2 linked regions of the Homo sapiens genome follow. The protein of the gene in region 1 purifies or fractionates together with the protein of each later gene. This does not show direct contact. Each region holds a gene or a part of one and is shown on either strand. Other genes may lie near its edges.

Region 1 (3,385 bases):
CATTTTTGGAATCTCTAGTTCTTCCTACAGGAACGAGTGGTGACCCCACCAACTCGCTCACGCCTGACATAGCTTCTCACGGGGCCTGGCTCATGGTGGAAAATCGCATTTTCCTTATTTCTGCTTTTATAATAAACTTACCTATCATTTGAACTAACTTGAGTGGGTCTCAGTTCTTTGCAATAGAAAGGGTTGCTACCATGTAAGCTTTGAAAAATGAGGTGTAAACTGTGGATGTTACAAATGTGCAACAGTCCTTCAGAGTCGGAAAGGGTAGCTGGGACTCTGGGGCCTCTAGACTTGAGCACTTCCTGGGGAGGGAACCCAGAGTCCCACTTCCGGCCAGCAGAGCAAGGAGGTTCATTAAGCTGCCTTATCTTGAAGTTACCAGGTTTTAGGATCTATCCACTTCCCCTGTGCTGACTCCATACTCCGAAAGCAAGTAAACTTCAAGTAAAATTACCCTAGGGGAGAAGCAGGTACTGACAGACCAACATGAGTGTTTTCACTTATGAGCAGTTTTATTTCTCAGTGTAAGACATATAAATTGTTCTCACTGACATATAACTATTAAAAGAAAAATAAAATAAAACAATTTAAAAAGAAGAAATATAAATTGTATTTCTGAATCCAAGTCACCTGTGGGGGTGTAGCCAGCATTAAAATAATCGCCAGGACCCATGCAGGCATCTATCTCTGAATGAGGCAGTGCAGCATAGCAGTTAAGAGCTCTTGGGTCAGACATGGATGAACTGGTTGCATGATCTTGGCTCGTTACCAAGATAAAGTGACACAAGGTGTGTAAAGCTCCCGAGCTGCAAGCCAGGATCTTCATACACATACATTTTAGAGGATAATAGTCCTTTCAAAAGACACAGCTAAAGCCAATAAAAATAAACAAAAATAGGATCTACTTTTCTGGAATCACAGGTTTGGGTGCTTTGGATATGTTTTATCATTATATAGGCACTTGTGTGTGTCTGTATTTTTTTGAATATACAACATTTTAATGAGATACTGCACACTCCCAGGGAAAGCAATTCAATCTCTAATCCCTGGCTTCTGATCTCCACCTCTTTTCTACCTGCTGAGGTAAGGATGAACAACAGAACTTCTCAATTGAATTCTAAGCTTGGGCCTAAGCACGCTGTGCCCTCTGCCTTTGAGTTTGCACCCTGGATGGCTCCCCTCCTCCCAGGAGACCCAGTAGGGAGATGACAGAGCATTGTAGTTTACACTGAGCAGAGTAAACAGATGATGTTAAGGAGACTGTCAGTGAAGGGCATGATTATGCAAAATAAAATACAATAGTGACAAGAACAAGAAAATAAAACATGGTCACTCTTCCATCCCATTTCTCAGATGTCACTACAGTAGTCTCAATTACGGTAGTCTCAATTCTTTAGACTAAAGTTCATAGGTCATCCAACTTATGCCCTGGCCTCCTTCTGGAATTCTTTTACCTAGCAGTTTCTGAGCCCACAGCTGAGCTATTTGTGACCCATTTGCTCCCACTATCTCATTTCTTGACCTCAGATGGTAATCAACTGATCAGGAAGACAATTTCCCTAGGGTTGAGTGTGGTCCCTGGGTTATGATTTATGGCTATACCTTATGTCCTCCTGCCCCCAGGCCCTGCACCTTAATCTCACCCAGAAGTGGCAACACCAGGAGGAAGGAGGCAGTGAGTGGCGTCGGCTGGGGATGGCACACATCTGCCCATAATGACAATGGAGACAACCCAGTGCTCCAGAGTCACAGGTCATCCAGCCAGTTCTCTGCTGTTTCCTCTTCTTAAGATGCTTCTTCCCCTCTTTTCCCTATTGACCATAGGCATCCTTTAGACCACCCTTTTCAGAAAGCCATCCCCCACTCACCCTCTCCTTCCAGGCTGGGCTATGCCCCTTCCCCTGAACTCCCATAATGCTGGGGTTGGACTTCCCGTAACACCCACCACACTGTGCTGTAATTTCCTCTTTATGTTTCTCTGTCTTCCCAAGAGCTCTTTCAGATATAGAGCAGGTTTTTTTTTTCTCTATATTTTCAAGTCACCAGTGGCCACCACACTGCTTGGTTCATAGTTAACACAAACTAAATGGTTCTAGAGAATGTGATTACATGAACTCTAACATTATTGGAAGAAAACAAGATGAAAAGAGGTGAGATGCCTTGTTTAAAGTCATACAACTGGTTGACAGGCTGGTTCAAGAACCCAGGTCTTCTGACTTCAAATCCAGTGCCCTTTCTATGCAGCTACTTCTGTGCCAAGCACGGATGGTGGTGAGCAGAACTGGCAGCAGCCTGAGTCCCCAGGTACCCTGGCCATCCACTGGGCATTGGGGAAAGGACTTGATCAGTAGATTGAGAGTCCTCTCTTCTATCCCTTACCACCCGGCCCCATCCCATCTTCTAAAGCAGTCATTTCTATTCCAAGTCATCCAGGTGATTCAGCCAGGGATCAAGTCCACATGGTACTTGGGTTGATATGAGTCCTGTACTTAGAGGAGAGTAGGTAACTGCTCCTTCTCAGGAGCTCAGGGAGAAACTGGACCCTCGGCCCCAGAGCCCAAAGAAGGGAATGACCTTCCTAGTGAAGGAGGCAGTGAAGGTGTAGATGGGCTCTCGGGTGACAGCGTTGGTGAAGGTCACCCAGCCCACCTCATAGTCAAGAGACACCCTCACCTGCCGGGGCTGCTCCTTCAGGGTCAGCCGTGTGGGGAAGGAGCCCAGAGCCGAGACGAAGCCCCAAGCCAGCCTCACAGCCCACACCCCCTCCTCTGGCCGCAGCCGAAGCTCCCCCTTCCGCTGCACATCCTCGCTCACCACGCCCACGGTGCAGCTGCCCCCATGGGCCAGGTCTATACTCACCACCCACGTGTGTCTCCCCCCTGTGATGCCAGTGTGGGCCAGAACACAGGTGGCCCGGTCAAAACGTTGGGGGTTGTCTGGTGAGTTCTGCCATTTGTAGGAGAACTGAGCTCGCTGGTGGTCCTCGGACAAGAGGAGCTTGGGGTGGGAAGTCTGAGGGTCTAGAGAAATGTGAGCTGTGGGGATAACCAAAAGGGACAGATGTCAGCAGACATGCTATTACCTCCAAGGAAGGCATAGAAACTCCCCCTGGGCCCCTCCTGTTAGTGTTATTATTACCAAAAACATGTATAGTGCCTACGTGGGCCAACAGTGTGGAACCACCTGGGAACTTGTTAGATATACGCTCTCAGAATCTGCATCCTAACAAGATGCCCAGGTGATTTGCACACAGGTAAAGCCTGAAAAGCCTGCCTCAGAGGATGTGAAAGCTCTCGTTTAGTTCAGTGTGGTCCTCGGGAAAGCTCTTCTGCTCACCGCAAGTTGGCTGGTTTCCAAAGCTGTGCGTGCCAGCTTG
Region 2 (3,500 bases), on another chromosome or scaffold:
TTTAGGAAAAATTAATCTGGCTACAATGGAGTCAAGAATAGGAAGAAACTGCCTTGTAAATAATTCCGTTTTCTAACAGACTAAGGTGAAAGTTAAAAGCATAGTAAGAGCTAAAGATGACAGTAAAGGACACTTAAAGGTCTCAACATTAGTCTAGTGAGGGGAGGTCTGGTGCGGTGGCTCACGCCTGTAATCCCAGCACTTTGGGAGGCCAAGGTGGGCAGATCACCTGAGGTCAGGAGTTCGAGACCAGCCTAGCTAACATGGTTAAACCCCATTTCTACTAAAAATACAAAAAAATTAGCCAGGGACAGTGGCGCGCACCTGTAATCCCAGTGCACCTGTAGTCCCAGCTACTCGGGAGGTTGAGGCAGGAGAATCGCTTGAACCCGGGAGGCGGAGGTTGCAGTGGACCGAGATCACACCATTGCGCTCCAGCTTGAGCAAGAAGAGCAAAACTCTGGCTCAAAAAAAGGAAAGTCTAGCGAGGGGAAGTGAAGGAGGTGGTCATAACTATGAGACCACATTAAGCCCCAGAAGCAAAAATTTTAAATGTTACAGAATTAAGACAAAAAGAAGCAGTTAAAAGATTTGGCAATTAGGTCACTAGCGACCTCAGAAGAGATTTGTTATAGTGTTGACAGTGCAGATCAGACAGTGGATTTCTTTCTAAAAGTATAGGGAAAAGAAGAAATCGTTAGAAAAAGATGCAGAGATTCTGGAGGATAAAGCATTTTTATCTCGATGGAGGATAAAGCACTGCAGACTAATGAAAAAGCCAGAAGAGGGAAGTCGGTGAAGAGAAACATAGAAATTCTTCTAGTCATTACCAGATAAGCACACACTAAGTTTACCATACCAGGTGGTGGCAGCAAATTCATTATGTTTGGTCCATATAAACAGACAGTTTAAGAATTGCAGCTGCTATTAACTGAGCACCTACTATTGGCCAGCTGCATACCCTGTATTATTTTTAGTCCTCACCTCAACAATCTCAGGAAACCAGGCATTACCATACTCATTTGTTAACTGACTGAACTACAGCTCAGATGTTACATGACTTGCCTGATATCGCAAACTGGTAAATACTGGAGCAAAATTGTTTTTAATAGTTATATTAAAGCATAATGTACGTGTAGTAAAATTTACTTATTTTAAGTGAAAGATTTGATAAATGTATTAAATGTATATACTTCTGCAACAATCACCACAATCCAGTTTTATATAACACTCTATCACCCCAAAACTCCCTTCATGAGCAGGGCAGATTTAAGCCTGAATCTGTATGACTCCAACTCATGTCATGCTACAATGAGAAAAATGGCTTTTTTTGGCAGAAAATCTGCAAAATTAAGTCGTTACCCTTCCAATCTTCTCTTAGTACTCACTAGTTCCCTTTCCATGTGAGGCCCTCATATATCTCTAGAACCATACTCACATATCATGATCTCACCAAATTCACGAGTTTACTGTAATTTGGAAACATACCCCCTAAAAGGACAGTATAATCAGACTTTTATATAGGATGCTATTACAGATACTGTGCTCTTTTTTTAAAAAAAGCAAAAGGAGTTAGGAAAAGGAAAGACAAATGAACAGGTAAGTCCAGGAGGAAGACTGAATGAAAACAGAAGAGTAAGGTCCTTGAAAAAGGAAAATGTGATATACAAATAAAGAAAACATGAAATAACAGAAGTCAGGAGTCTGTGTCATGGAAGAGAGACTAACTGGAACAGAAGCTTCTCTTCCATAAGCAATGTAAAACCGTACAGAGACATAGGATGGAATGACTTCCTAGGCAGGAGTTAACACTTATTTGGCTAAGAAACAGGACTATACAATAATAAGACAGACAAAAATCAAAATAAAGTGAGACAATATTCATAGTAAAGTTATAAAGCTAAAACTTGTTAAATTTTATAATCATGATTTTCCTATAACTAATTAAAACAAGTGCAAATTTTTCTTTAGGTAAAAAAACAAGCAGGCTGGGCGCGGTGGCTCACGACCATAATCCCAGCACTTTGGGAGGCCAAGGCAGGCAGATCACCTGAGGTCAGGAGTTCAAGACCAGGCTGACCAACATGGAGAAACCCCGTCTATACTAAAAATACAAAATCAGCCCGGCGTGGTGGCACATGCCTGTAATCCCAGCTACGCAGGAGAAACGCTTGAAACCAGGAGGTAGGGGCTGCGGTGAGCCCTGATCACACCATTGCACTCCAACCTAGGCAACAAGAGCAAAACTCTGTATCCAAAAAAAAAAAAAGAATTATAGACATATAAGAATTCAGGCCTGGTGCAGTGGTTCACATCTGTAATCCCAGCACTTTGGGAGGCTTAGGCAGGTAGATAACCTGAGGTCGGGAGTTCAAGACCAGCCTCACCAACATGTAGAAACCCCATCTCTACTAAAAATACAAAATTAGCCAGGCGTGGCGGCTCATGCCTGCAATCCAAGCTACTCAGGAGGCTGAGGCAGGAGAATCACTTGAACCCGGGAGGCGGAGGTTGCGTTGAGCCGAGATTGCACCATTGCACTCCAGCCTGGGCAACAAGAGAGAAACTCTGTCTCAAAACAAAACAAAACAAAACAAAAACAAAAAAAAAAACAAGCAAATATAGAATTATAAATATATAAGAATTCAGGCCTGGTGCGGTGGCTCACACCTGTAATCCCAGCACTTTGGGAGGCCCAGGCAGGTGGATCACCTGAGTTCAGGAGTTCAAAACCAGCTGGCCAACACGGTGAAACCCTGTCTCTATTAAAAATACAAAAATTAGCCAGGTGTGGTGGTGCACACTTGTAATCCCAGCTACACAGGAGGCTGAGGCAGGAGAATTGCTTCAAGTTGAACCCAGGAGGCGGAGGTTGCAGTGAGCTGAGATCATGCCATTGCACTCTGGTCTAGGCAACACAGCAAGACTCCGTCTCAAAAAAAAAAAAAAAAAAAAGAATTCAGATACCATATCAGGGCCAGAAATAATTAAAATGATTAAAATAAGATATGACAAGCCTGGAACGAAAAAAAGTACAAATCTAAACAGGAGGATAAAATAAAATTTTCATTTAACTTATATTTTCACTTCCACCCAAACCTTTCCTTAGTTCTATAGAACTAGAAACACAATTCACTAAGTCTAGATGAAATGCTCTTCCAAGCAGAGCCAAAGAAACTGCTAGCCCATAATTAACAGAACACATATTTTATGACTATCTAATATATAACAGGTGTTGTAATATCCAATTTGTTAAATCAGTCCCCTGATTATTACCCTGAACACTCTGTCTAGTCCAACTTGATATTCCAAGAAACACTATTCTTCCTAGGAAAAAGACATACCTCTTTGAAATGAATGATTATAAAACTGTTCCAGTATTAGAAGAGAAGTCATTTTTTAATGTTAAGTAACAAAACCCAAAAATTTAGTTGTCAATTCTTACACTAGTAAGTCCAGAGATGGTATCCAGGTGACTACGGCAGAGAGTAATATACACA

The links.
Region 2: the proteins of TRIM10 (region 1) and ZMYM2 purify together in Homo sapiens (affinity purification with mass spectrometry; 4 studies listed by BioGRID and IntAct, with this or other methods). This does not show direct contact.

Annotation. Positions count from the first base shown.
Region 1 is NC_000006.12:30,151,443-30,154,827, forward strand, and holds the end of TRIM10 (tripartite motif-containing protein 10), read right to left. Parts: intron 3,045-3,385; coding exon 2,527-3,044; 3' UTR 2,330-2,526; coding exon of another isoform or gene 2,246-2,329; 3' UTR 501-2,245; downstream 1-500. UniProt on the Homo sapiens protein: E3 ligase that plays an essential role in the differentiation and survival of terminal erythroid cells. May directly bind to PTEN and promote its ubiquitination, resulting in its proteasomal degradation and activation of hypertrophic signaling.
Region 2 is NC_000013.11:19,965,227-19,968,726, reverse strand, and holds part of ZMYM2 (zinc finger MYM-type protein 2), read right to left. Parts: coding exon of another isoform or gene 3,446-3,500; intron 439-3,445; exon of another isoform or gene 325-438; intron 1-324. UniProt on the Homo sapiens protein: Involved in the negative regulation of transcription.